4 linked regions of the Homo sapiens genome follow. The protein of the gene in region 3 purifies or fractionates together with the protein of the main gene of each other region. This does not show direct contact. Each region holds a gene or a part of one and is shown on either strand. Other genes may lie near its edges. The genes, in order: PLXNA2, UBR2, INSL5 and SEMA6A.

Region 1 (7,580 bases), about 140 Mb from region 3:
CAAACAGTGACAACTCCAGCACCATAAATATTTCATAGCACCTAAAGTGGTGAGTTTAGGCTGCTGTCAGCTGCTGCCTTGTATATTTAACCATGTCACTGGTTTCCCCTCCTGTTCCTATGTTTTCTTGTAACCTGCCCATGAAATAAAGATTAGCTGAGTAAGCAGAAGTATTGGTAAATGGGAAAGGGACCTAGGAAACAGGTAGCTGTTCTTTGAGGGCTTTCTTTTTAACCTCATTTTAAGTGCAGACTTCAGTAAAACAGATGGTGAAGGAACTTTTACATTCACCGCATCTGCAGCTTTTGATGGTCAAGAGAGTTGCAGGGTGAATGTTCCCTGGTGCTCTGAAGACAGGGATAGGTATTCAGACTAGCTCTGAAAGGGGGGCCACCAACCTTGTAATGACATGGTTTTGGGCGATGGACATAAGACACTGCCATACTCTTCATTTAGACTTGGGCTGAAAAGCTAGCCAGCCCCCCTGTCCTGCTCCAGGCTTTGAGGGACCCCTGTCCTTATGCCCTGCCAAAAAGAAGGACCAGCTGGGATTTCCTTGGCAGACTCATGGTCCCTGGATAGAGATCTCCTGGTACTTTACCACTGCTGCTCCTCAGCATCTTCCCTGCACATCGCTCCAAATGTCATTTCCATTTAACTGCTTTGCAAGCCAGTTTGCCCCCATCCTAATGCAATTTGCTGAGGACAGTGAGGGAGCAGAGAGGGTAATCTGCATTGCCCTCCCTTTATCAGCAGGTCCCTGAAGACGATCGGCTGCGGAGTGGAGGGAAATAGCTCCTTTAGGTAATGCTGGTTGGTGGCAGCAGGGGCAAGTTCTGGAATGAGGAGGGGTTGGTGGTGATGCCAGGTGGAAGAAGGGGAATGAAAAACAACCTCGCTATGACAGATTCCACTGTTTCCTTGGTTCCCTACCCTTTCTCTTCACTGCCCCTTCAGCCTCCAGGCCACCACCAAGGAGAGATCCCAGGTAATTAGTTCAAATGGTGCTCCGTGAAGAGAGAGGGAAGTTAATGAATTCTTCTCTTTTCTTGCCTGGAGGTCAGAGGGGAGAGGGCTGCAAGCAACTCTGGGAGCTTTCTGGGGTTATTGCATAAAAGTTGTGCATTTCAGTTAGGAATAGCTGAATTCCTCCAGCCAAGGTTATCTCTTCCTGGGGCTCTGTCAATCAGTAGAAGGCCCCAGAATCCAAAGCCAACCCAGAGGGAAGAGTGAAGTTTCAAGATCTGGGAAAGAAGCCCAGCAAAGGAGGGAGACTGCTATTGTGTGGGGAGAGGGGAGAGCTAAACCTGACTCCTGCTCTCAAAGCCTCCAGCCCAGGCCAGCCAAGATACTCATCTTGGCCTGCCGCTCATAAGCCTTGTCCACTGTGCGCGTGAATGGAAGGAAATGAATGTGCCCCCAAATTTCTGTGGGTTCTTCCAAACTGATGGGCCCCCAAGTGACTGCCTCAAGCTATGACTGGCAGTCCCAGTCCCCTCAAACTGATGCTGCCTTCATGTCCCTTGTGCACTTTCTACTGGTGTGCCACTGTCACTCTAAGATTCCTACAGGGGACCTGTTCAGATTTCCATTGCCCACTTCATGGGGCTCTCATTTCTAGACCCTTACTGACCTAGAGCCCCAAATCTTTTATCCAACTTCCTCCCCACCATTATTTCTATCCCTCCTGAGCAGAGCTGAGTTTGAGTAGGTAGCTCCCACTAGGGCAAGGGTCATTCCAAACAGGTGGACTTTTTTCGGGGATCTAAAATGGTAGTTTCTGGTGACTCTCTGGGCATCTAGACCATGATTGGCATTATAGAGACTACCTGTGGGATGGATAAAAAGGGCTAGAATTTTCTAGGATCCCTACCTCACTTGTGGGGTGGGGCAAGAAAGAGCACATGGAAGGAAACATTCTCAAATGGTTCATAAGGAGCCTCTGGGACCCTAAGCAAACTCCCATTTCAACCCCCAGCACTCCTGTGGTGCTCAAACTAAGGGGCTGGACCCCTGCTGGGCGATACACCGCAAAGGGAGCCCCGGGAGATGAAACACTTAGACCCATTCAGTGCCTAGGAATCTCTCCCTGAGCCTTATGGAACCCGCGCAAATGATGTTTTCCCATTCCCCTGATCTCCAGTCCCCGATCGGAAGGGAGAGCCGGCGGCCACCAGGGACCCCGGCACTGGAGTGAACGCCCCCAAATCGATCGCTGGCCAGTGTGGCTTTGGGCTGTCTCGCTGGTGCCACCGAGGCCCTCTTTGGGCTCCAGCTCTCAGGACAGCCTTGCCGCCCCGAGCTCCCCAAAGCCGCAGAGCGCCGGCAGGTGCGCGGTGGAGGCGCGCCGCGGAGCGCTGCTGCCGCCCTCAGCCCGCATTCGGGAAGCCGGCGGGCTGCCGGCCGGGAAGCCCTCGGCGGGAGGCAGCGGCTCCAGTGAGCCTGCGATCGCGCGCACGCCGCGCTCCAGCCCGCGAAAGTGGCCGAGCCCACGCGGGGACTCGCCCGCCGCGGCCAAGCCGGGTCTTCTGGGGCCGGGACCCCAAAGAGGCGGGCGCGGGAGAAGCCGCCACGGGTGTGCGCGCCTGTGGGGAGAGGGCGGAGGGCGCTGCCGACTCCGAGCGCCCGGCCCAGCCGCCGCTTACCCAGCTCGGCGACGTCGGTCTGTCCTTCCGTCCCCGCTCGGTCTACCTCGGCCGCCGCCGGCTGCTGAGGGCGGCGCGAGGCCCCTCTCCCTGCCCGCAGCTCGGAATCAGGGAGACGACCAAATCCACATGGAGTCCAAATTCATTAAAATCCACGTCAAGCCACCAGACACTTATCTGTATTCCTGAAGTCGCTCCTCGGTCTCCGCTCCGCGCGCCCCTCAGTCCTCCGTCGCCCCGCAGCAGCCCGGCTGGGCGCTGTCGCCGGCTCTCAGGGGGCACCCGGAGGCGCCGAGGGGGCGTGTGGGGGCGGCCGGCGGTGTCTCTCCTGAGGAAGAAGCAGAGCCCCGGCTGTCTTCAGATTTTTCCAGCGCGACTTTCCGGGCTCCTCTGACATCAGCAATCCCGGCGCTTCCTTCCCTTCTTGCTCTCCGGTTCGTTCACAGTCCCATTTCCTCCGGGAGCCTGGCTTTCCAGATCTATTTCGAGGTTTGCTCCGCTGGCTGCGGCGCTCGCACGCCCTACCGCTCCCAAGCTCTCGGGGTCTCTCTCCGGATCGCTCGCCCTCTCGGCTGAAAAATTCCCAGCAACTGCCCTCCGCCGCCCTCCCGCTCCAGTCTGGCGCGGATGCCGCTCCTCCCGGCAGCTCTGGCTCCCGCGGTGGCGGCGGCGGCGGCGGCGGCGGCGGCGGCGGAGGAGCCCTGAGCGCCGGCCTCCCTATTTCACCATGCAGCTCATTATCATAGAGGCCGCGCGCGTTAACCCCCTCCCCGCCGGCCGCGTCCGCCCGGGCTGGGGCCGCGCCCGCTGCTGGCACCGCCCGCCACCGCCAGCACCCTGCCCCCTCCCCCGCCCGCGCGGACTTCCTCCTCCGCAAGCTGTCAACAAAGGAGAAGCAGGTTTGGCATCCGGAGGCCGCTCGGCTGCCTGTCCTGCGCCCAGCTCAGCCCGGACCCATCGGCCACCTTAAGTAGCCAAGGGGGCAAGGAAAATGCTGCCAGGGCCCGGGAATTCGAGTCGGGCCTTGCGAGCCCAGCTGGCTTGGCCCCCGGGGGAATAGAAGGTCTAGCGTTGGGGTTAGGGGGGAGCTCAGAACACAGGAAGAGTGGGTGAGGGCAGTAGGGACAGGGAATCCCCCCCATTCGCATCACCTGTCACCGCACACATCCTGCACACCTCCCTCTTCATCTGTAATTTGAGTGAGGGGTGAGTGGGGAGGAACGGGGCTTGTCTGGTAGGGTTGAGACTAGAGTCTTGGAATTTGTGGGAGCAAATTTCCTCTTCTTGTAAATTAAAAAAAGAAAAAGGCCAACAAGCTGTCAAATAAGGCTTGAAGTTGTTGTTATTATTATTATTGCAATGAGAAGATGAACCTTGCTCTGAATTGAATCTCAAACTTCCAGCCCTGATAGGGATCCTGGGCATCTGGTAAGTCCCGACTTGCATGGGGGCATTGGGGACGGGAGAAGAGCTTTCTATATCCAATTCAGAGAATCTTTCTGGCAGGGTAATCAGAGGGGTGGCAATAAGATAACTTATTTTAATAACCTAAGGTGAGAGGTTTCGGGATTCTGGATGACAATGTCTCGGTGCCCTCAAGGCCACTGATTCCTCGCCACACAGTCTCAGTAACTCCGCAGCCTCTAGACACGGCTTTCCGGAAGCGGCCTGCAAGCTGGACCCCAGCGAGTTCGCAGGATCTGCGTAGTCCCTGCTCGCGATTAGAGCGCACACGAGTTTACTCCTGTCCAAGTATTCTGATAAGCTTCCTCTACTGCCCTCTCGTGGCCACAGTCCTCAGTGGTATAAATCTAAAAAACAACAAAAATCACTGCGAATACCTAAAAGCAATTGCACCAAATTCTTAGAGCAGTAGCGGCAGAAGAAACGAAGGGAGGGAAGGATGAAGAAAGGGAGCCGGAGAAAAGAGAGAGAGAGAGGAAGAAGAAAAGGAAATCTAGACTAACCAGTCATCTCGAACAATCGCACATTCAACACAGGACTGGGGGATCTAGGCTTTACTCCAACATCTGCAGAAATCAGCGAATTCTTCAAAAGTTCTTCATTGTAATTAGCTGAAATTTGTGTTCCTGTAACTTTCACTGGCTACTGCTAGTTTTGTCCTGTGGGACCACAAAGAATCTGTCTAAGCTGTGTTGCCTGATCCATACCTGTTCTTTCCTTCAAACTTCTTTAGCATTCATTGTTGGTAACACACCAATAAATTATCATATTTACCCTGTGTTATTATTTATTTATTTTTATAAGTAGATCTTGTCTCCCCATGCAGACAGACTAGTCGATCGTTTTATCTCTGGGTAGACTGAATCTAAACCACAATTTATTAAAAAAGATGATTTGAAGAAGATGCTAGAAGATTTTGGAACACTTCCTCCATTTGTTCATGGAGTTTGGCCAGCTACACCTAAGACCAGCCGTGGTAGGATTGGAGATATCTAATTGATAAAGCTCCAAGCTGAAAATTAGGGCCCTCTGGTTCTAAATCAAGTGGTGTCTGACTCTGGAAGAGGTCACCTCTCTTCCCTATGCCTCAATTTAATCACACCTTGGGAAGATTATGATACAATTGAAATAATTTTCTCATATGCCACCCTCCACTCCTGTGGTCCAGAAATAAATCTTAGAATGAAGAGCAAGGAAGCATAAAATGAAACAGACTCTTCCACTCACCCCATCTTTTATCCCCACACCTCCCCTCTCTTTCCTGAATAAAGGGAGAGAAAGAGGGAACACAGGCGGGAGGACACATTGTGGCTGACAGGGTGGCACGACGCCATCCAGATTCCACATTGCCACTGAACAGGGTCTAAGATCTGAGTCCTGTGAGACTATGGAAGAGCCTGTGGTCAGCATAGCAATGGAAAGAGCGCTAACTTGATCTACTGGGAGGTACAGTGGATGAAGTACCTCTAACTTCTCTAGGCCACAGTTTGTCCATCTGTAAGATGGGAATTTCTGTCTTCACTCTCCAGACAACTGGGGGAATTAAAATAGATATATGTAAGCGTGTTGGAAGAAGTAATAGTATCATCAAAATGGAAAGATTGTTGTTATATTTAGTCCTAATAGGCTAGAACAAATATGGATCTTATTAGCTAAACATCTAATTACCATAACATGCTCTGAGAATTTAAAAAAAAACCAAAACCTTGGGTTCATGGTTCGTATTTAGATTTGACATCCTCTGAGGCAACAGCGGTATACCTGAACCTCTAGTCTTTACATCTGCTCGTTAACCTTCTCCCTTTGATCTGGGTATTCATTCATTTATTACGCAAATATTTATGAAGAGCAAATTTACTAAATTTCTTCCTTTAATGGAACTATATACAGTCCATAATTACTGCTTTGGCACATATTTTTAAAGAAAGCATGGCAATAACCCTACAGATTCTATAACCTCAGATCTATCTCTTTCTGAGGTTTCTGGTTTTCTTGTATGTTTCTGCCCTTCACTATATTCTTCCTCATTCTGTCCATCTGATATCAGGCCCACAGCCCCTTGGGACTGACCAGTCCTCTGTCAGGGCCTTGTAGTTCGTCCTCATTTCCATCTGGAAGGATAGATGTAGTGCAACATATTTGTGAGCAGGCTGTCGATATTTAACAAATATTTATCAAATGAATGAACAAATGAATGAATGGGGAAATGTTTATCTTATGCCAAATCCTCATCATTGGAAAATCATAGCACACTCAACAGGGTTCTCCACTCACCCCAACCTACCTACCTTCCCTAGTCAAGATATTCCTGGAACCTCACCTTGAAAGTCATTTGTCACTTCTGCATTCTTGTTCCAGGCCCCAGGCCTCTTCTTTGCTTGTCAAAGAAGCAAGCTAAGTAACTAGATGGGTTACTTAAGCAAGAGAATGAGAGAAGTGGGAGAGGACAGGGCACCAACATTCTGGAATGCCACAGAATGTTTCCTGTGAAGAATGAATATTTCTCCTGTGGAAGGCAGGTTTGGCTAAGATGCTGCCACCTGCATTTTCCAGGCTGGGAGCAGGCCTTGGCCCTGGAAAGCAAGCTCTTAGACTTTGGGGAGCACAGGCCCAAATGGGCAACTAGCCCATCCCTAGGGGAAGTCCTTTATGTCACAGCAGCAGCTCCAGCCCCACAAATAGATGCCAGTACAGTAGCCCCTCGGATCACAGGAGGTATTTTTGGTGCTGGAAGCCAGCCACACTTTGGCAGGCTTTCAGCATCAAGTCTGTTCCCTTTAGAGGCGGGGGGTGGCAAGCTATCAGTGTTTAGCATGGGAATGCTGCCTGAGAGTGTGTGCATGCATATATTTACGGTGCCTTGAGTCGGCTGGGAGGTGGGCTCAGGAGGATGTGTGCCTGGACCTGTGCTTGGGAGCCAAGGGTGCTCCTGCTTGCCAGTGTCAGAGGGCAATGTTTGGATGGTGCACTGGCTGTTGCCCGGTTTGTACCTGGCTCCCAAAGCTGAGACCACTGATGCCACCACCAAGTTGATTGGTCTCTGCTCTAAGATGCATGTCATCTTTCACTTGCCCTGAGCCCAGGCTTGCCACTATAGACAGGCAGGAATGTGGTCCCTTCTGTCTCCCTACCAGGTACCTCACCTTCATCCAGCAGATGCTGTCAGGCAACCCCAGCAGCAGAGCAGCCTCCCCTTAACCCCTACATTGTTAGGAACAAAGGGATTGGTCCAGACAGGCCAGCCTGGAGTGTGTGGGCCAAGTCCTGTGAATGGAAGAGAGAGACTGCGGGATGCCAGAGTGGTGGGTCTCAGCCCAGGCAACGGGGCTGGCAGCCCAGGACACAGGAACAGGGCATCTGCTCCGGGGTTCTCAGTACCATTCATAAAGACGTCACCCTTCCCTCCCCTCCCCTCCCCTCTCCTCCCTTCACAAATCCCACTTTCCTGTGTACTTTAAACAGTAGCAAGCC
Region 2 (7,691 bases), on a different chromosome or scaffold from region 3:
ATGATCCCCACCTGTGTATCTCCAACCCAGATCTTTATCTTAGGTGTAGGTTATCTCTGCCTATTTTTTTAACCTGGATCTCCTACACATACCTAAAATTCAATCCAAATTAATTTTTCTTCCTATAGTCCCTGTTTTAGTTAATTTCACCACTATTCATCCAGGAGAAACCAGAAAATTGAAGTCTTTTTTTTTTGAGATGGAGTCTCACTCTGTTGCTCAGACTGGAGTGCAATGGCACAATCTCGGCCCACTGCAGCCTCTGCATCCTGGGTTCAAGCGACTCTCCTGTCTCAGCCTCCCGAGTAGCTGGGATTACAGGTGCATGCCACCGTGCCCAGCTAATTTTTGCGTTTTTAGTAGAGATGGGGTTTCACCATGTTGGCCAGGCTGGTCTCAAACTCCTGACCTCAGGTGATCTGCCCATCTCGGCCTCCCAAAATGCTGAGATTGCAGGCATGAGCCACCATTCCCGGCCTAGATACATTTTTTAGCCTGGGCATTCACATTCAGTTGGTCAGCAGAGTCTGACAAATTCTCACCATTCCTTCTTCTACTTGTTTGGTTCAGCCCCATATTATTTCTTGCCTAGATTATCATAGCAGTTTTTACCCAGAATCTCACTCTTCTCTAATACGTTATTAGAGGGGCTCCTCAAAAGCAATCCTGTTCATATTCTTCATACTTTTACAAACTTCTTAACCTATTTCTCCATTATCACCTCCTGCCAGTTCCCACCCCTGTGGTCCAGACTTGTAGAATCACTGCCAGTTCCTCAATGCTAGTTCCCATGCCTTTGCACATTCCATTTCCTCTGCCTAGAGTACCCTAAGCAGACTGCTACTCTTTCAGATGCTGTTCAAGCTTTCCCTTCCCTTAGAAAGCCCTCTGAACCATGTACTGTGAGTTAGAGACCTCTCATCTGTGATGCCTGCCTCCTTCCCCACTTTCTTCCTTTCCCACCCCAGGACTTTAAGCTCTTTGAGAGCAGGAGGGGGAGAATGGGTTTTATTTGAAGATCTTCAGAACCAAGACCTAGTGTATATAGTAGGACCTCAATATTTATTGAACCAAACATTACAGAAAATTTGGAAAATGAAAAAACAAGCAGGAAGAAAAAAGTCATCAACTTATCACATACCCATCTTTTTCCATTAGCATATTTATGCTTGATTACAATTGGTACTCACATGTAGCTTTGTTTCTGCTGTATTCTTTAAATCAAGAGTTTTCTTATTACTGCTACTTAGTCCTCATAACAATTTTTAATAGCTGCAGGCACCCTCATTTGTACCACCATCTTCTTAGACAGTTTCCCCAATATTTGGAGTATCTCTTTAGGATACTCTACATTTTACGGAAGAGTATCCACATTTTAGAGGATCTCTTTAGGATAAACATAAGAGATATGTGTTTTAGGGTATCTGTTTAGGATAAACATAGAGAAATACTGCATCCGCATCTTGGCTTGTTTATTTGTTTTTTGAGATAGAGTCTCGCTCTGTTTTCCAGGCTGGAGTGCAGTGGTGTGATCTCAGCTCACTGCAACCTCTGCCTCCAGGGTTCAAGTGATTCTCCTTCCTCAGCCTCTCGAGTAGCTGGGATTACAGGTGTGAGCCACCACACCCGGCCTGCACTGGCATCTTGGGAGTGTCCCTTGCTTTCTGTCAGATGCGTATATTCTATATTCTTTTCTTTTCCAGAGAAAACCAGCAACATGGTGGCAAAGAGATAGATTTCATTTATTCAGCACACACTTAGACATTTCCCATTCCATTTATCCTGTGTTAGAGGCATGTCATTGAGATGTCATAGATCTAGTTCCATACCATCTAGAGCAGTTTCATTGTGCATCCAGCTGTGCTCTGAACTAGCATTCCTGAAAGAGAACTGCTTTGCATTTTTGTTTTTTGTTAATTGCGTTGGTTTATTTTAGGATGACTGTCTTAGGTCATTGACGAGATTTGCCGCAGCACACTGGACAGTGGCATCAGTTTCAGTGGTGCAAGGACATTTTTGTAAACTTTTTGCATGTGAGTATTAATACATTTATAACATGTTGTAATTTTTCATCCTCTGAAATTTTGTTTTTAATGGTACAGCTTCTCTCAGTAATGAATTAAATATTTAGTAGTACTGGTTTTCTTATATATAAGCTCTAGCTTATAAATTCTCATGTGTCTTGCAAGAAGATAAATTTAAAGCAGATTATATGCATTTTAACATGTTGGCATATGAAATATGCTAATGTATTTCTCTTTAAATCTGTAGCACTGGTGCCTAATGACAGCCATGAGGAACTTCCATGCATATTAGATATTGACATGTTTCATTTATTGGTGGGTATTGTGCAGTTTGTTTGGACTTCTACGTCATACTATGTAACTTTACCTTAGGTTTGGTGAGCAGTGTAGTGGCAGACAGGAAGGAGTTATGTGATTTCCTTACCCCTTCTGAGTATAATTCTTTTATGAGAAACCTCAAAAAGAAAATATTTAGGAACCTAGTTGAGAGACTTGACCTGGTTATCGAGACGTCCTCTGACTCTTATTTTGCTTTATGGCTGAGGTTAGTATTTTAACCTCTCTGTGCTTTTAACCTGTAAAGAGATAAAAACACCAGCAACGGGTCAGGTGTGGTGACTCATGCCTGTAATCCCAGCACTTTGCGAGGCTCACCCCAGATCACTTGAGGTCAGGAGTTTGAGAGCAGCCTTGCCAACATGGTGAAACCCTATCTCTACTAAAAATACAAAAAATTAGCTGGGCGTGGTGGCACATGCCTGTAATCTCAGCTACTCAGGAAAGTGAGACAGGAGAATCACTTGAACCCAGGAGGCGGAGGTTGCAGTGACCAAGATTGCATGACTGCACTCCAGCCTGGATGACAGAGCAAGACCCCATCCAAAAAAAAAAAAACAGCAACAGAAGCACTGCTGCTGGCCCATACAGTGCTTTTGTACATTTTCGAAAATCTGGCAGATACAGCCCTGTGGTCACACTACTTAGCAGCAGAGAGCCCCTTATAATTCAGGGAAAGGTATGTCCTCTGAGCCAGGACATCCTAGTGCTAAGACACACAGCTGTCCAAATAGTGGGTAGCCAAATTTCAGCCCTACCTCAACTGGGTTCCCTTGCACAGGGTACAGAGTGTACTGCCACACCCAGCAGCCCCGAGTGCTGTGCCTTTATTCTCTGGACCTCAGATTCTGCCCCTTTAAGTTGGTTAGTACCTACTTTATATGACTATGTCAGAACTCAGTGAGTTAATCCATGTAACACACTTAGAGCAATATATTCCTAATAAATGCGGCTATTACTGTTCTCATTGCTGCAACTAAAACCACCACCACTTATACTGCCATGCAGACAGCAGGAGGCCAACAGAGCTAGCATTTGTGTACCTGCCAGCTTTTACATACGTTCACACTTACATCTCTACAATTTACATGTAACATATTGTCTTTAGTTTACCAATAGGGAAACTGAGGCCTGATCAGAGATATTAATTTGTGTAAAACAGCTCATAAGAGGAGGAGGTAGGATTCATATCTAGATATTTATGGGTCCAAAACCCATGTTTTTTCAACTGCCTACAGTCCTGGAGAGAGTTCAGATACTGTTTTTGTTAACAATAAGCTATGTATAGAGGACCCACTGGATTAATGAAATCATAGTGCCCATCAAGAGTCCTGTAACTCAAGTCATTTCATGTAGCCAGTCCTATTGGATTTTCCAACATGGATGCCCTTTCTTTAAGAACAAAGATTTCTTAAAGGGAGGAGCTGAACTCAGGAGGGATCACAGTAAGAAAATGGAAATGTGACCAGGCGCGGTGGCTCACGCCTGTAATCCCAGCACTTTGGGAGGCCGAGGTGGGCGGATTACCTGAGGTCAGGAGTTCGAGACCAGCCTGGCCAACGTGGCAAAACCTCATCTCTACTAAAAATACAAAAAGTCGGGCATGATGTTGCACGCCTGTAATCCCAGCTACTCAGGAGGCTGAGGCAGGAGAATCGCTTGAACCCAGGAGGTGGATGTTGCAGTGAACCGAGGTTGCGCCATTGCACTCCAGCCTGGGCAACAGAGTAAGACTCTGTCTCAAAAAAAAAATCAAAATAAAAGTAAAAGTAAGAAGATGGAAATTTGCTTAGCTGTGAAAGGAAAGGCGATCTGTCTGATGTCCTGTGTTTGGTGCCTAGGTGGGCTTGGTGCTTGCATTTCCTGCGTTGCAGTGTCAGGATTTTTCAGGGATCAGCCTTGGCACTGGAGACCTTCACATTTTCCATCTGGTTACTATGGCACACATCATACAGATCTTACTTACCTCATGTACAGGTAACTCTTGCCTTTTTGTCAGTTTCTTGAAGGAAATACTTGAGTTTTCTGAGTTTTAAAAAAAGTATTAGAGGAAAAGGTATTTGGATGAGAATAACACATGAATAAGGCTGTTTTTTTCTGTGTATCTTCATATGAAAAGTTTTGAAACATTTCTTTCTCCTCTTAAAATTTCCTAGTAATGTGAATGTTTCTAGTTTTAATTTCATACATTCAGTAATATTTGTGTAGAATAGTAATTAAATCTTTTAGAATCTTATGTTTTAGAATGCCAATTTTGTTTTAACTTACATGTTTGTTAATGCCCACATGAATTCATCATTAAATTACGTTTTGCATTCAAAATTCTTGTTTTTCATACACTTTAAGACTATATTTATTTGATTTTACTTAAAACATGCCAGCTGGCTGTTTGGTTTGATTGAGATCAATACTGTGCTCCCACTTGAGGGATTACAATTTTGCATGTTTTCTAGGAATACTTCATGTTATATGTGAGTTTATGAATATATTTGCATGCTTAATGTCTTCAGTCCTTTTGATAACACTTAATTGGAAAATACAGAGTACTAGTATTTCCTTATCTTTCAGAAGAGAATGGCATGGATCAAGAAAATCCCCCTTGTGAAGAAGAATCAGCAGTTCTTGCTTTGTATAAAACACTTCACCAGTATACGGGAAGGTGAGTTAGTTATCTTTACATAACGCATTTCCCTAAATATTGCTAGATGATGATAGCATGAGAAAGGAATTCGTTTGTTAATTAGGGGAATTTGTTGTCTGTTGACATGTTTTTAAAATAAGACGTGGAGTGATCTGCAGAGCCTTTCTGAACTATTCATATACTAACATAATTGGAAATCTGGGAGAAAGGTGATAATATGCAGAGCTTCCCACATTTATTTGGCTGTGGAACCCTTCATTTGCTCAGGGATCTGGCAGAGACTAGAGGATAGATCAAATGTACTTTGGAAAGTTGATACTCTAAAACTTATGTTGTCTCATTCAGAATGGGAATTTAAAACTGCAAGTTAAATTGGCATAATTTATTTTTAAGGTAATATTCAGTAGTAGCAGGAATAAAATGAAATTATTAGAATTCCATGTATGGTTAGAGTCATGATTTGCTACAAATAGCAATTCAGTAGTTTGCTTAGCTTTCAACAGTATATATGTCAAGAATCTGTAGTCAGGAACCTATAAAAATGTCTGTTTTTTGACTATCCCATTTCTGAGAACCTACATTAACAAAATAATTCAACATATAGAAAAAAAACATATAGGCATATAAAGATGGACACTCCAGCCAGGCACGGTGTCTCACCCCTATAATCCCAGCACTTTGGGAGAATGAGGCTGGCAGATTGCTTGAGCCCAGGCATTTGAGACCAGCCTGGCCAACATGGTGAAACCCTGTCTCTACCAAAAAATACAAAAATTAGCCAGGCATGGTAGCATGTGCCTGTGGTTCTATCTTCTCAGGAGGTTGAGGTAGTCAGATCACCCAGGCAGGTGAAGGCTGCAGTGAGCCATCACACCACTGCACTCCAGACTGGACAAAAGAGTGAGACCCTGTCTCAAAAAGAAAAAGATGTACACTCTGATATTATTTATATTAGCAAATAATTGAAAGCAATCTAAGTGTTTGCAGGGGAATAGTTTGATATAGTGATGAATGTGTTCCAAAATATTATAAATCTATTTAAAATATGGCTCCTAGGAGCTGGGTGCAGTGGCATGTGCCTGTAGTCCCAGCTGCTCAGGAGGCTGAGGTGGGAGGATTGCTGGAGCCCAGTAGTTTGAGTCCAGCCTGGACAACTTTTCATTTTCCACATTTTCTCTTTATGTCACTATGTTACTTTTATAAATTTTAATAACATCACACCTGTAATCCCAGCACTTTGGGAGGCCAAGGCGGGCAGATCACAAGATCAGGAGATCGAGACCATCCTGGCTAACACAGCGAAACCCCGTCTCTACTAAAAATACAAAAAATTAGCCGGGCGTGGTGGCAGGCACCTGTAGTCCCAGCTACTCAGGAGGCTGAGGCAGGAGAATGGCGTGAACCCAGGAGGCAGAGCTTGCAGTGAGCCGAGATTGTGCCACTGCACTCCAGCCTGGGCGACAGAGCGAGACTCCGTCTCAAAAAATTTAATAACAGCATTGGAGGCTGTGTCACCACTTACACCTGGCATCCTATAATAACACACACCCACTTGCCTGTTAACTCACAACTTTTAAGCATACATGCCATCAGTTCCAAATGACAGTCAAGTCTGTTTTCACACTATAAGTACAGTGACCTTTTCTTAGTAGATTTCCCAATAATCTTTTTTTTCTTTTTTAGTGCCTTGAAAGAAATACCATCCGGCTGGCATCTGTGGAGGAGTGTCAGAGCTGGAATCATGCCTTTCCTGAAGTGTTCTGCTTTATTTTTTCATTACTTAAATGGAGTTCCTTCCCCACCCGACATTCAAGGTAATTTATACTTTCTTTCAAAACGTAGGGAGAGTTAGTAATCCTTTACTCCAGCAAATATAAAGATCACTTGCAAAAATGAAAATTGACTAAAAGTTCAAAGAATAGCTTATTGACTATGGTGATGTACACATTTATAGCATAAAATGTATGTTTATGCATATGTCTCCATTTATTTGGATCTCAGTAAATGACTGTTAAACTTCTGTGTAAATGTTTTTACACCTGCAAAGCCCTTCTCCCGTAAAGATCATAGTTTTGCTTTCAGATGTTAAAATGTTCAGTTATGTATTATTCATAAACAAGGTTCCTCAGATTTGAAAAGGTGAAAACTGACAATTTCAAGTGATTTTTAACTTGAAACATGCATAGCATTAAAATTTAGAATACCCATAATTGCACATAAATCTGATTTTAATCTGGGAATTGATTTGCTCTTTCATAGTTGTTTTCCATGTTCTGTTTTGATTCATTTCATAAAAGTAGTATGAATGTGGACTTGACTGTATCTCTGTATCCCACAGTGCCTGGCACTGGCCGTAGAGTACCTGCATGCAGTGCTACTCTCTGAAAGTTTGTCCACTGGCATTTCCATTTAGCTAGTTGCCTAGGAACCATATAAAAGAGTTTAGTCTTCCAGATTATTTGCAGTGATGATTAGAGTTGGTATTTAAATCTGTGTCTCGTGGTAAAACCATCTTGTATTTCTGTATTGGTTGATCCTTTTCCAGAGCACCCATACATTTTTATCATTTAATGTTCACAATAACCCTGTGCAGTAGATTGTGCAGGCACACCATTTTGCAAATGATAAAGCCGAGACACCAGGACATTGGGACCAGTTTGATGTAGGAGTCGCCTGACTGCACTTGACGC
Region 3 (7,717 bases):
TCTGAGGGCTGGTTTCTTTTCCATTCATATTACATATTCATTACAGATCAGTGGGCAGTTATGCTCCATATTGTTCTGACTCAGTGATTAGGTTCCCACATCAGGAATGTTGTTGGTAACCACAGCCAGGAAGAGGGAGAACTGGAGGATCATACACCGATCCTTAAATTTCAGGCAGAAGTGACATATGTCACATCCACTCACATTTTATTTGCCAAAATATGCCACATGGTGTTGCCCAATTTTAAAGAGCAGAGAAATACAACCCTACCATGTGTCAGGACAGAGGAGAACTAGAGATACGTCTACTCTAGAAATTCACAGCAATCCCAGATGTTAATCAATTTCACAATGGAGTTATTTCCAACATCAAATAAGTTGTGAAAACATTGAATTAAACAAAGTTAAAGAAATTTCATAACTATAAGTCTTCTCTGGGCTCTACTATATTAGTAGGCATTATTAATCTCAAAGAAAGAGACTACTATCATGGAATCCTTTTTAAAAAATATTCAAAGACCATCTGCAAAGACTCATGTTCTGAAGAAAACACTTTAAGAAACAGTACCATAAGACCTTTCTTTATTAGAACTTGTTTGTGGAAGGATGAAAGGAAAGAAGAAGGCAAGGAAAGGATGAAGGAAGGGAGGAAAGAAAAAGACGACAGCAGTGCAAATTTATGGATGGTTTTGAGATTAAGAGTTATACAGAAGAGTCATCCATAGTAGCTAGTCCCAACCAAAAATAATATTTTCTAATCCCTTGTTCATGACATTGTTAATTTATTATTTATTGAATTATATATTATTCTAGGTGCTGTACTTGTGTTAACTCATTTTGCTTCACAATAACATTATAAAACACAGATTATTATCTCCTCATAGATGGAGAAATTAAAACTCAGAGCGGAAAATTACATATTGTGTCTCCTATGTTGAAATCCTAACCCCCAAGGTGATGAAATTAGGAGATGGGGTCTTTGGGAGGTGAATAGGTCATGAAGGCAGGACCCTCATGAATGGGATTGATGACCTTAGAGACCCCAGAGAGCCAGCTTGCCCCATCTTCTGTGAAAGGACACAGAGAGAGGTCCTAGAATCCGGACCATGCTGTCACCTTCATCTTGGACTTCCCAGGCTCCAGAACCGTGAGAAATAAATTTCTGTTGTTATAAGCTACCCAGTCTCTGGTATTTTGTTAGAGCTATCCGAAGGAAACCTGAAATAAGACACATAATAATTGCCACATAGATAGTAAACTGAGTTACAGACCAGAATGAGGAAGAAAAATCACGTCCATCTCCAAATGAAAGGGATTAAGTGCTCCTGTGAGAGGTGCAAAAAAGAAACTGTGGTTACTCAAAAGATGGAAAGATTCCTTTTCAGTTGGTTAGCCTTTCATGGACCTTGAGGTATGTGAAAAAAGTGATGTTTGGGTACCTGAGTGGAAAGCATTAAATGTGATATTGTTTGGATTGTCTTCTGGAGGTAATGGTGAGCCACTGAAGGTTTGTGAGGTGGGAGTAACATAATCAGACAATTATAGCAAGACTGATAATTTCAAGTGCAGAGAAGACTTTTAACAATTAAATCCAACCCTCTCAATATACAAATGGGGAAAATAAGCCCCAAAATTTCAGGCTTCACATCTAGGGCTTTTATTATTGTCATGAGCTTTTTCATCTGGGTAGCTACTTGGCTGTCTAACTTGCCTCCATTAGGTCACAGAATGAGCTCAAGTATTGCCAGCCTTCCATCCCAAACTAAATGAGCCCTAATGAGGTATTAAGAGCTGGTAGAAGAGGGGACTACTTTGCACCTAGGGGCATCAAGTGTGGTGATAGCAGGATCATGCCAGAGTCCATCTGACATCCAAGGTAGGGATCGTCCCTTGGCTGAATATCCCTGGGGTTGTGCAGAAGCCCAATCCATAGCCACTGATGATAGATCTACTGCAGTGCTATGTTAAAACTGGCATTGTCAAGATATGCACTATAAATCTCCAAAGAAGGGAAGAAGTTTGGTAATACATGGCTCAATAGCTGTTATGTTGTGGATGTGCTAAGCATGGTAATACAGACGTCCCTCTGGAGTTGATGAAAGATGCTGATTTTGACCCATCCAAAGATGGAGTAGCTTTCTCTGATGACAGAACCATTTCTGCTTCTTTGGTCCCTTTCTTAGCAAATGACCGCCCTACCTCCCAGTTGAACAAGCCAGAAATCGAGGTATCATATTTGACATCTTTCTCTCCATTGCCCCTGATACCCAGTCAGTACCAAGCCCTTCTATATTTTGAATACACATGTGTCCTATCTCTCTTCCATGGCCTTAGTTTAGGCCACCATCATATCTAAATTATTGAAACAGCCTTTTTCTGTTTTTCCTTTCTCAAGTCTTGCCTTTCTTAATCCATTCTTCACACTACAGCCAAAGAAATGGAGAAAGCAAGACTCTTAGAAATAATTTTTATTTTTTACAGCAAAGAATGCTTTCAATTAGATAACAGATTATTTTGTTGTATTTTCCAGCTTCCCTACAGAAGAACAGTGATTTCACAAGAAGTACAAATGATATGATCATGGCCACAGACTTAGCAATTTTTTTCCAACCAGGAATCACAGACAAGGATTTCACAGAATCAACTGAACCATTATTTGTTCAACTTGCTAAAACCTGAGTCAACAGTTCTTTAAGATCCCAAACTCTGGGATTCTCAGTTTAGGTAAGACCTTTGCAAGAGCTAGTGCTTTCAGAGGTTTTACCAAAAGAGAAATTTCATTATTTAGCTATTTGGGATATGGACTTAGCTTTCTATTATCATAAATACGTGTGTTGAGAAAAGTGTACCTAGGTCATAGGTGAAGGATAACAAGATCCTAGTCAGATAAAATCTTCTGAATTCTGAAGTTATCTTTTCTAGTCTTCTATTCTGATGGTGAGAGGAGAAGCAGCTAATAATTAGTAGCTGTTTTTTTTTGTTTTTGTTTGTTTGTTTGTTTGTTTGTTTTTGTTTTGAGACAGAGTCTCGCTCTGTCGCCCAGGTTGGAGGGCAGTGGCGTGATCTCAGCTCACTGCAAGCTCCACCTCCCGGGTTCATGCCATTCTCCTGCCTCAGCCTCCTGAGTGTCTGGGACTACGGGTGCCCACCACCACGCCTGGCTAATGTTTTGTATTTTTAGTAGAGACAGGGTTTCACCGTGTTAGCCAGGATGATCTCGATCTCCTGACCTCGTGATCCACCTGCCTCGGCCTCCCAAAGTGCTGGGATTACAGGCGTGAGCCACTGCGCCTGGCCTATTAGCTGTTTATTGTACCAAGTGGGACGCATGTTATCACATTAGACCTATGAGGTAGTTACAATCATCAACACTATTTTACAAAGAAGGATGCCTTAAAAACTTGCTTAAGAGTCTAGATCTGGTAAGTAACAGCCAGGCAACAGCAACGGCCAGGATTCAAACTCAGGACATAAGAAATTGCCTACTTAAGTGTGATATCCCATTGTTCTGACATTCATATTGCTTTCAATATTCAAAAAAACCCCTGTGAGATGGGTCTTCCCATTCCAGAGATATGGTTATTGAGGTTCAAAAGGTTTTTTTGTTTACTTGTTTGTTTGTTTGTTTTTTAGAGACACGGTTTCACTGTCACCCAGGCTGGAGTACAGTGGCACTGTCATGGCTCATTGTAACCTTGAACTCCTGGGCTCAAGTATGCCATTGTGCCTGAGTAATTTTTAAATTTTTTGTAGAGATGGAGGTCTCACTATGTTGCCCAGGCTGGTCTTGAACTCCTTGCCTCAAGTGATCCATCTGTGTTGGCCTCCCAAAGTGCTGGGGTTACAGGTGTTAGCCACCAGGCTTTGCCTCAACTCAAAAAGTTTAAAACTTGCCTTATGTCACTCAGTAAGTAGCAAGGCTGAGAGTGAAACTCATTCTTGGCAACTTTCAAAGTCCGTGAGTTTTCCATAATGCCTTCCAAGAGGGCATCTGTTTTTATCATCTCACAGATGCGTTGATGGTATTAAGGAGAGACTGAATAGCTGGCAATACTCATAAAACCGCATTTTCAAAACTTTACTGTGTAACCCTATGTGCTTAGCAAATATTGTAAAAATGAGGTTCTGACCAATGAAATGTCAGGAAAGTTAGTATAAATTGGTCAAGAGAGTGACAGTCACTCCAGAATTTGATTTGACTATATTTACCATATCAGATTCACATTCAGTCCTCAGCAAAATGAAGGGCTCCATTTTCACTCTGTTTTTATTCTCTGTCCTATTTGCCATCTCAGAAGTGCGGAGCAAGGAGTCTGTGAGACTCTGTGGGCTAGAATACATACGGACAGTCATCTATATCTGTGCTAGCTCCAGGTGGAGAAGGCATCAGGAGGGGATCCCTCAAGCTCAGCAAGGTAACAGTAACTCATGTGTCTCCTCTATTTTCCTTTCACATGTCTCTTTTATTTTTTCAAGCTGTGTTTTAAACCATTATTTTATTAAGTGTTTCTCTAAGTACTGTTGAGGCATTTTTTATGTCAATTTAAGGGATTAATTATCAAAATATACTGAATTTGGCTTGGGAAAGTGATGAGCATGCTACCTTTCAAAAAATAACTACCTCATTTTTTAGTCCCCTGCTTGAAATCATTTAATCGCATGACTACTTCAATGGGCTCAGCATCTGTGGAAGGTACTTTGGAGGCTATGGCGAAGCATGTGATTTCAAGGAGCGTGTTGAAGTAGCAAGACTTTCACTCATGAATAATTGTACAATATAATAAGTTAGAATTCCGGCAGTTGTTAAATATGGATGCAAGGAAAGAAGCTGACCTTAATTGAGCACTTTTAAGTGCTGGGAAGTTACATGTGCAACATTTCATTCAGCTTTCTGATAAGGATCCTGGGAAGCAAGCAAAATTACCACCATTTATCATTTTACCAAGAAGAAAATTCTTCTCCCAGCTGGTGAAAATGTGGTTAGGTAGGAAACTGGGTCTATCTGGCTTCAAGAGCCAAGGTCTTTACTAATTCCATACTGAGTCTCGGGTGGGAAAGAGAATGTTACAAAATGTCACCTATTACAAAATGTCACCTATTTTGTAATAGGTGACAGCATCATGGAGGTGGTGGTTACTGACAGAGGCCCTGAAGGATTTGGGGATTATGGAAGGTGGTGGGGAAGCAGGGTGGGAATTCTAGTAGTAGGAATTGTCTGATCAGGATTTTGAAGGAAGAAATGAACCAAATGTCTTTCAGAAACGGTGAAGCGGCTGACTTCACTATATTTCTTTATTATTCAATTCAACTAACTTAAAAATTTGACTGAAATTCTTTCTGTTAATTCCATATTAAAGTATGAGGTAGAATTTATTTAAAATCCTATTTTTAGATTTTTATTTATTTATTTATTTATTTGATTGGAGACAGGGTCTTGCCCTCTCACCCAGGCTGGCACAATCATAGCTCACTGAAGCCTCAAACCCCTGCACTCAAGTGATCCTCACACCTCAGCCTCTTGAGTAGGTAGGACTACAGGTGTGTGCCACCACATCTGGCTAATTTTTAAATATTTTGTAGAGGTGGGGTCTTGCAATGTTGCCCAGGCTGGTCTCAAACTCCTGGCTTCAAGCAATCTTCCGTCTCGGCCTCCCAGAGCACTGGGATTACAGGCATAAGCCACTGGGCATGGCTGAAAATCCTATTTAAAAAATTATTTTTTTAATTGGTAAAAATTATATACATTTATTGTGTACAACATATTGTTTTGAAATAGGTATACATACAATATACATGTGGAATAGCTAAATCAAGCTAATTAACATATGCATTACCTCACATACTTATGTTTTTGTGATGAGGACACTTGAAATCTACTCTTTTAGCAATTTCAGGAATACAATGCATTTTTATTAACTATAGTCACCATGTTGTACAATAGACTTCTTGAAATTATTCCTTCTAATGGAAATTCTGTACTCTTGACCATCTCTTCCCCAACCATCCCCCTCACCCTCACCCTCTGATAACCATCGTTCTCCGCTATACATTTTTGAGTTTGACGTTTTTAGATTCCACATATCAGTGAGATCATGTGGTGTTTGTCTTTCTGTGCCTTGCTTAAGAGTGTATTTTAATAATTGGTTGTATTTGCTATGTTTTATACTAAAAAGTTAAAAAGGAAAAATGTGATTACATAATAAATGTTGCGACTATATGTATGATTGTTAAGGTTTCAGTTTAATTTAAAATGATGTTGGTAATAAAAACCTTTTAGAAAATGACCTAAACTGTTCATCTTTGGGTGGGCTAATGTGTTGAAAAAGCATGTATTTTCCATTTTCAGTACCACTTTAATATTGAAGTTCATATGACTAGTTGCTAACAAAAATTATATGGGTTTTTAATCTTAAGAGAGTAAGCATAATTTACCAGGATTTACAACAATCTCTGTAATAGCAAACCAAAATGCACTATAAAAATACATTTGGGATATCTCTGAAACACATAGGGGAGTGGAATGGATATCTATAAGGCTAGCTCTGTTGGACATCACTGAAATCATACTACTTATTATTCAATCTTTCTCAGATTTTCAGTGTTTTCCCACACATTATTTATCTGATCAATTACTGGTTTACCAACCAGCATCTGTTCACCTAGTTTTTCATGGTGCCTGCTGGTGTGCTAAGGCATTGATAAGTCAATTTGAACTAAATTAAAGTGAGAGAAGCTTATATATGAACTTTGGAAACAACACTTAGGCAAAAACTGTGAATTTCACTTTTTATTTTCAGATATAGAGGTTTAAATCTCCATTTCCTTCTTTACTGATCGAGATTGCAGGGCATACACAGGGTTTTTTTTTGTTTATGTGTTTTTTGTTTATAGCACATAACTAATATTGGAAGCTGCTGGTCATCCAGCAGAGGTAGCGAGTAAAAGAAGTCAAGTCCCGACTAGCTGAGCAACACTGACTGTCACTCCTCATCTTTGCACTCAAGTTTCTGCCTCTGTAAAATGAGGACAGTGGAGATGACTGTGCTCTCCCCAAAATGTCTAATCTCTCTGAAACCAGGCCAACATTTTAAAAAATTATGTGTATGATTCTATTTCATTTTAGGGATCCAGTTCATTTCCCCAGGAGTGGAATGTGGTTGCTGCCTTCTTTGTAGGAGCTGTCTAAGGATGTATTATTTTTTTCTCTTCCATACAGCTGAGACAGGAAACTCCTTCCAGCTCCCACATAAACGTGAGTTTTCTGAGGAAAATCCAGCGCAAAACCTTCCGAAGGTGGATGCCTCAGGGGAAGACCGTCTTTGGGGTGGACAGATGCCCACTGAAGAGCTTTGGAAGTCAAAGAAGCATTCAGTGATGTCAAGACAAGATTTACAAACTTTGTGTTGCACTGATGGCTGTTCCATGACTGATTTGAGTGCTCTTTGCTAAGACAAGAGCAAATACCCAATGGGTGGCAGAGCTTTATCACATGTTTAATTACAGTGTTTTACTGCCTGGTAGAACACTAATATTGTGTTATTAAAATGATGGCTTTTGGGTAGGCAAAACTTCTTTTCTAAAAGGTATAGCTGAGCGGTTGAAACCACAGTGATCTCTATTTTCTCCCTTTGCCAAGGTTAATGAACTGTTCTTTTCAAATTCTACTAATGCTTTGAAATTTCAAATGCTGCGCAAAATTGCAATAAAAATGCTATAA
Region 4 (7,691 bases), on a different chromosome or scaffold from region 3:
AGTCTGTGGTATGCTACAGTGATGGCGGGGAGGACTGGTGGTTTAATTAATTATTTAATTATGTTTTCTCCCCAAAGTAAAGATGCCTATGTTTAATTCTGACTAAAAATACTCTACACTTTTTTATACCGTACCCAAATGGCTACCAGCGGTCAAGATTGCAAGAATTTTGTATGACTTTTTAATGCTGTGTTTAGTCTACATGGAGCAGTTTTATGATTTACAGTAAGCTTTGATTAAACTACTCCAGGCACCAAAGTTAATTATTAACCTAACCTTAAATACAGTGGCAGAACTATGTCTCCACCTATTAACCTAAACTATCTATTAAAAAATAATTGCACTAGCTATTTGAATTTGGTTTACCCATGCTTGTTTGTATGGTAACTTTTATTTGAATCTTGAGTAACCCTTACTCCCTGTTATTATTTTGGTTTTGGGACGTTCTTGAATGAGGCACTTTGCAAACCAGTTTAAAGCAGAAAAGAACGAACATCAAATTTAAAATCTTACTTTTGGTTATGAGTCATTTTTCAACTTGATGTAAAGAAGCATTCTACTTTATGTTTCTGATGTACAGTGTTTGTGGGTGACAACCTTCCCCATATGTTAGGTTTTGCAGCTATCACCTTTTAGAGATGTGCTACATTTTCAATAACGCATATAATCCACATATGTAAATGTTAAGCAGATACCGAAAATCATTTCTGAGGAGCCATCAGCTGAATATACTTATTGGACATAACAACTAAGCTTAAATAGGTAAAAATTTTATAAGAACCAGTATAGAACACTCAAGTAAATGTCGAATGAATGAAATAAATAGTCACACATGGTTCATGTTTGTCCACTTAAAGTGGACTTCTTTATTTTCCCTACAGTGAAAAAAAAAATATATGCCTTCAAGTGAGTGGTTATGATAAGGCGGCAATAAGTGCACCTTTTTATTTACACACAACACACACCCCTCAAGTTCTTCCAAAATCTAGTAAATGCTTTTTCCAACATTAAACACATATAGCAGTTGTATTTTGAGTAGGCGGGTAACATTGCACTAGTGAAGTCTAATGTGTTGAATCAGAAGTGTAGCAAGAATTAGGAAGACTGTTATCTTCACCAAATAAAAATGAGGCATCCAAATTAAGAACTTGTATTAAATTCAAAATAAGTAGTTATGCTTTAAAAGTAAATGGGTAGTTGCACTCCTATATGAAATGGAAGGAAAAATACTATTTTGAACCAGGAGTTAAGTCAGATAGTTTATTCTGTGTACATTGTGGTTCAGCGCTTTTCAGAACAGGACAAAAGAGTGATGATGGGATGAAAGTTTTTTTAGAACTAGATTGCCAAGAGCTAATATAGTCTCTCCATCTTATTTGTTTGCAGGAAGGAATCACAGAACAAGCTAAGCTAATTGCAAATGCTTTAATTAAGCATCTGCCATTTGTGTAAGGCAATGCCTAGGAAAGCCTATCTCTGCACTGCCCCTCTCCACACCCTTCTTTAGGTTTAGACAATTTTCTGTCCTCCTAGAGTAGAGGAGTGCTCCTTGACATATTTATATAGAAGCTTTGTGTTATGGCAGCCACATTTGTGCATGTTGAGGAAGGTGATGCCTTGAGGCGTTCTGCTGGGCCCTCCCATATCAGGAACCCCCCCCACTCTCTTGGGGTGCCTTGGAGCCAAGTTTTCTCTGAGATATTTCTATTTCAGCGTGAAGGCTTTTCTCATCTGCTTTAAAATGTGCTGCAAGAGCAACTGAGCTATTCTCTGCTGGCGACCACATGGTTGCCTCTTGGGGATATGGTAAGATAGAGAAAGGAGGGAGGCATTTAATCCCTTCGAAATGGGCAAATGAGATGTCATACCACACAAACCTCAAGGGGAGGAGTTCAGGACAACTTCTCACCATGGGACTACTGCATATAGTCTATACACAAGGGTATCTTGCTTTGTGAAACAGATGAGCTCTTGCAAAACTTTATTACAATAATTCCATTTACACCAATAGAGGGTATCATATAAAACCATAATACACAGATGATTCCCAAATAACCTCTTCAGCTTAGACCTCTCTCCTGGACCTCACAAATAACCAATGCTTAGTGGGTAGGTAGCTCCTCCTGAATAGACATCTCAAACTTAGGTTTAAAAAACCTAATTCTGTATCTTTCTCCCCCATATCTGCCTTTCTCATAGTCTTCTCCATCATAGTAAATGGCAACTCCATTCTTTGAGTTGCCGGCCCCCAAATTTAGTTCTCCTTGAAGCTTCTCTGTCACACCTACATCCATTGTGGCTGCAATGCTGTTGGCTCCACCTTTGGAATACCTGCAGGCTTCCTTCAGGTGTTCCTCCTCTGTGGCCCTCAAATTGGCCAAGCCATGGTCCTCTCCTGCTAGGTTTTCATGCCAGCTTCCCCACTAGCATTCCTGCCTCTGCCCATTTCTCAACACAGCAGCCAAAACACAGCAGTGATTTTTTTTTTAAACTAAACCAGATCAGATCACTACTTTGCTCAGATGTTTTCCCATCTTCTTCCAATAAAAGCCAAAGTCCTTCCTATGGCCTTTGCAGCCCCACATGATCTGCACTCAGGTTCCAACCTCTCTGACCTCCACCCCTTGGGCTTGCTTGAATCTGTCAAGCATGGCATATACTTGGGGTCCTTTGCAAGGACTTACTCTTTCATGCCTTGGGATGGTTCTTTCCCCAGATAGCTACATGATTTGCTTCTCATATTCTTCAGGTCTCTGTTCAAATGTCACTTTCTCAGTGAAGCCTTTTGATCCCCTTATTTACTTTACTCTTTCCCACAGCACTCCCCACCTCTTGGCAGTCCTTATTTTTTTCTTAGCATTTTTCACAGTCTGACAAACTATATGTTGTCCTTGTTGATTTTCTGTCTTCCACTAGAACATAATGCCATAAGGATAGACATTTTTAGGCTTTATTCACTCTGGCACCTAAAGCTGTGCCTGGCACATCATGGGCCATCCATAACAAGTGTTTGCTGAATGAATAAACAGTGAATCATTTTTGCAAACAACTAGTCTTTATTTTATCTATTTTGTCTGCCTTTGTTTTTCTATATCATGTTTTTATCAAATGAGATACTTCATGCATGCATGTGTGTGTGTGTACTTCATGCATGAATGTGTGTGTGTGTGTGTGTGTGTGTGTACAATCTTCCAAGCACATAGGTGGTATGGCTCATGCATCATTAGTGGAACATTCACTGTGTTGTTTTTCCAGTGGTAGTGATGGATTGGAGCCTGTTCATTCCCACATTCTCACCCAGTCCCCTCCTGTGTCCAAGAGCACACATCTGTGAGACACCTGGTTGTAGCTGGAGGGAGTCTGAGTTAGGTAAAATCAACTTGCCAAGAAACAGAGCTAAGAAGACAGCCAGCATTTGTGGGGATTGAGCTTTTGACCCTGGCCTCATTTGTTCTGCATTCTAACCACTGGCCATAGAACGTTCATGTTTTTTTGGAGTTTGCTAATAGTAGTTTTAAAATTCAACTTTCTATCAGGAGAATACAGCATACTTTATTAACCCATGTTTCTGCCCTGTACCCGTACAGTATATCTGCTGTTGAGGATCCTGCACTTGGAGACAAGAAGACCTGAGTTCCAGACTCTCACTACCTTGGACAAGTCACTTAACTTCTCTGTGGCTGCATTATTTTAATTGAAAATTATAAATAGTAAACCTATTCTTCCTAACTTATAGGATTACTGGGAAAATAATACGAAATCATGAATGTGAATGTATTTAGTGAAATATTACACGCATTGTGGAAATTTGGGAAGTTTGATGTTAACCCCCTCTTTCCCACTCTGGACCCTGGATATAACAGAGATCCTACTTCATCTTCTAAATTATTTTTGGTAGAATATACACTGTTCATGTAGTTTTAATGTAAATCACATTATGCAACTAAATAATATGTTCAAATTCATTGAAATTGTACAGTTCACCTAGAGCATGGATAGCAACTTTATTAATTAGAACACCTACCATGTCAAGGAAACATTGCTTTCAACATTATCATTAAATCAGGCAAGGTCATAGGAGTACCATTCTGCCAGGAATTAGTTTAAAAGTAAGATAATTGTTTTTGCTCAGTTAAATTCTGAAATAGTTCAAATCAGTGTAACGATTAATATGTCAGGGTGAACCAGGACTAGTAGAAGTTTCCATCTTTGTCATAACAAGGCCGAATTCGTTAGATCTTGTGGCGTGAGGTTAATAAATGTGAAGGGACCGTTGGAGGGAAGGTAGTGGACAACTCTAGAGGCATTGCGGAGGTCATGCTTTTTTGACAGACAATGCACGTGGATTTGTTTTGCCATTTACCAACAGTGTGACTTTATGCCAGTTTCCTTTCTCCTTCAGTTTTCATTTGCAAAGTGCTAGTATGATGATAATGTTATGGTTTTGAGAAGAATAAATGTGCTAACATCTGTAAAATGCATGTCACAATGCCGGGCACACAACAAGCAGTCATTCAACATAAGGTATTATTTTTACTTGAGTAACAGTAGTTACGAAAAATGTCCTAGGAATGGATTTTGAAAAAGCAGATAGTACTTTTATTCTGGGGGGCAGGGGAAATAGTAGAAAAGGAAATGGCTACGAATCTGTAATATAAAGAGATGATGCAAAAGAAAACAACCTTTGGACTAGAAACAAACATTCATACCATAAACAGGCCATAATGTCATGGGTTTTAAGTTGAGAAGCATGTGAATACATCACTTGCAGGGAAACAGGAAACAGGGAAACTTTGGAATTTGAAATATCACACCCAAAACATGGAAGGAAAAAACCACTATATATAAAAAATAATAATAATAACAAGCAGAGCCTTATATCAAATAGGAGCCCAAGGGATAGTTTTTGAAAAATGATAGCTATCACTTATTAACATTTTAATAATAAAATGTACACTCTGCACCTACATTTAGAATCTGAAAGCAACTCATAATGACAATTTTAGGGATGAGTTGAATTCCCAAGGACCACACCTGTCTTAGGAGAGAAACTCGGCTGCTGATTGGAACCCTTGAGGAGGTTGTGGCTAGGACTTCTGCAAGAGGGTCTTCAGGTTGGGCATGCATCTGCCAGGTCACTCTTCCCTGGCCAAGCTTGAAATCAATTTGGGAGCAAAAGCAAACTACTGCCTTCCACACCAAAGGTAGGAAATAATTGGCTGACCCCAGTAGAGATAGCAGTTATTCTGCTGACAGACACACTACTACAAAACCTGAAATTTGATTCAAATGATAGTCATACAAGTTCTTATCAGTGAGAAAAATCTGACTTCTAAAAGGCACAGCAGAAGGGGAAATAAATTGATGTTATCACCACAATTCCCTGCTACCATTATGTTTTCCAGGAATGCCTCCATGGCTTAGAGTTACAGTTATTTTCAACTAGGAAATAAAATGTTCTCAAACTCTGTAAGTGGAAACAGAATGGAAAGAGTGTGAGATAAATCAGTAATTAACATGCTGCAAGGACCGAAGTTTCAGATCCTTCTTAGCAGCCAGTATGGTGACTTTTGCTTAGAAAGCATTGTTAGTAATAGATACTTCCTCATGCAGCCTTTAGACTTGAAGCTTTCTTTTAATATTCCTAGGTGCTTTCTAGGAATTTCCAACTAACCTATAATTGTCATCTGTAGAACATTAAATTCAAAGAATCCATGCCAATTAAAAAAATTTAGCAGAAGAAGCTCTAAAGTTGGTGCTGTTTACGCCTTTCTTAGCCCTTCTGCCCCTCTACGCTTCAAAGACCAGCCTTTGGCCATGATTTGATTAGAAGCATTTATAGAACAGAACAGGATCTGGCATTAAATACAATGAAAACATGCCATTGGAAAATAAACATTGTTAGAGACTACGAAGAAATAAAGATTGTATTAATTATGTTTTAATGTTCTATGAGGGTTTTACAGACAAGCTGTGATAGATCCATTCTTCTTTCCCTGTTCCTATTCCTGATTCGTTTTTTAAAGAAAAGTATTCAGTCTTTTCATTAATATTGCAGCGACTTCAGCACTTCCCCGCCCCTCCCCCAGACTCCTACTGTCCTTGAATGAGGAAACTGAGAGAATACTGATTGAGCTGGTGAATGGAAACGTTCCTTTCCTGAAAATGGAATGCTTTACAAAAAATTGCATTCCACAAAAAAACACTCAAAACAATTCAACAACTGTCCCTCCTCCTTTCTACCCAGAGAGCCACTTGATTTCATTCACATATTTTGGTTTTTCAATGTATTTGTTCTTAGGCCTAAAATACCCAGGTGGAAAACCATTCTATTAAGCCTTTCACTATTTTAAAAACATGAGCATCTGAGTTTCTAAGAACATTCTCATTCCTGCATAGTGAGCGATAAATAGAAACCAAATTGTTTGTAGCATTCTAAACTCAAGTATATTGGCAGAATGGCAGTGGAGTTGATTTTTATAAGAATACTTGTTAATGGTTTTCGAGACGGATTCTGTGCTAATTCTTCTTGTATCATGAATGATGGCCCTAGCTAGACACTGTCGCTGGGATCTTCATCTGTTAATCATGGAGGCTGCTTTCTTATTCGGTTGCCATAGTTTCAGTGCCTCACATAGTGTTGGGGTGTCTTGGGAAAGGTTTGAGATATACTAGGGCTTGCAAGCCTTGCAGTTATTTTGACAGTTGTGCTCTGAAAGACTGAAAACCGCTTCTCGTATAATTCAGTGTTGGATTAAAAGAGGCAACTTCTGAGAGTGTCTCCCTGGACCTTGTTATGTGCACATCCAGCTGGTATTTAATCCAGGATTTGCCTCTTGCTCAGTCTTGCTGGCAAAAAAAATAAATAAATAAAAATACAGTACAGAGGCTGATGTCACTTTCATATTTCAACAAGAAAGCAAAGGGACGCAAACTCTTCATTAAGACTATTCACAAATGTGGAGGTAAATGAGGCCATTCATGACTTTGCTTAAAATTTCTGCTCCATAATTTGGCTTTGGCTTTGCAGATTACTAAATAAATAAAATGACATCATGATTGCTGTGTGCCGTGTGTTATTTTGGCAATGGAAACATGTAGAGCTTTACTTCAGGTTTAACCTTTCCTTTTTTACACTTGACACTCATTGCTAAGGAGCTAGAGACCATTTTACTGTATTTTGCAACAAAAGGCTCATACATTTTGGACTGTAGGTCTACTGCTTTGTCAACTCGTGAATAGTATATGAACATTTTTCAATTATTTAATAATTTCAATATTTTGCTATTTTTTTTTAGGTTTGTGACTTTAGAGTTGATTAGAGAATGTTCTCCAGTGGTGTATATATTGTGTGACTTGGTCAAGAAAGGATTTGGGGAGTAAATTGCTGTAAGAGGGTGATACACATACACACATTCTGGCGATTTATGTGCTTCACGTGTGATGCAGAACACAGCTTGCTTCTGGTTGGCAAATTTGGCCTTGTGCAACGGATAGTGGTACACTTCATGTTTCAGTTTCCATTTCTCAAGTGGACTTTCAAGGACTCCTACCAGTCTAAGCCAAGCAATTTAATTCCTTTGTAGATTAAAACATAAAATAATCTCACACTGGAAGCAAACAGTGTTGAATTCAAGACATGCAAAGCATAAGTGAAAATCTAGGCTGATTTAGAAGAAGAAACTTTGAAT

Evidence for each region.
Region 1: the proteins of INSL5 (region 3) and PLXNA2 purify together in Homo sapiens (affinity purification with mass spectrometry; 2 studies listed by BioGRID and IntAct, with this or other methods). This does not show direct contact.
Region 2: the proteins of INSL5 (region 3) and UBR2 purify together in Homo sapiens (affinity purification with mass spectrometry; 2 studies listed by BioGRID and IntAct, with this or other methods). This does not show direct contact.
Region 4: the proteins of INSL5 (region 3) and SEMA6A purify together in Homo sapiens (affinity purification with mass spectrometry; 2 studies listed by BioGRID and IntAct, with this or other methods). This does not show direct contact.

The regions. Positions count from the first base shown.
Region 1 is NC_000001.11:208,240,998-208,248,577, forward strand, and holds the start of PLXNA2 (plexin-A2 precursor), read right to left. Parts: upstream 3,388-7,580; 5' UTR 2,646-3,387; intron 1-2,645. UniProt on the Homo sapiens protein: Coreceptor for SEMA3A and SEMA6A. Necessary for signaling by SEMA6A and class 3 semaphorins and subsequent remodeling of the cytoskeleton. Plays a role in axon guidance, invasive growth and cell migration.
Region 2 is NC_000006.12:42,671,855-42,679,545, forward strand, and holds part of UBR2 (E3 ubiquitin-protein ligase UBR2), read left to right. Parts: intron 1-1,936; coding exon 1,937-2,033; intron 2,034-2,271; coding exon 2,272-2,339; intron 2,340-4,201; coding exon 4,202-4,337; intron 4,338-4,928; coding exon 4,929-5,019; intron 5,020-6,684; coding exon 6,685-6,815; intron 6,816-7,691. UniProt on the Homo sapiens protein: E3 ubiquitin-protein ligase which is a component of the N-end rule pathway.
Region 3 is NC_000001.11:66,797,745-66,805,461, reverse strand, and holds the start of INSL5 (insulin-like peptide INSL5 precursor), read left to right. Parts: upstream 1-4,185; 5' UTR 4,186-4,240; coding exon 4,241-4,415; intron 4,416-7,216; coding exon 7,217-7,449; 3' UTR 7,450-7,717.
Region 4 is NC_000005.10:116,564,314-116,572,004, reverse strand, and holds part of SEMA6A (semaphorin-6A isoform 2 precursor), read left to right. Parts: intron 1-7,691. UniProt on the Homo sapiens protein: Cell surface receptor for PLXNA2 that plays an important role in cell-cell signaling. Required for normal granule cell migration in the developing cerebellum.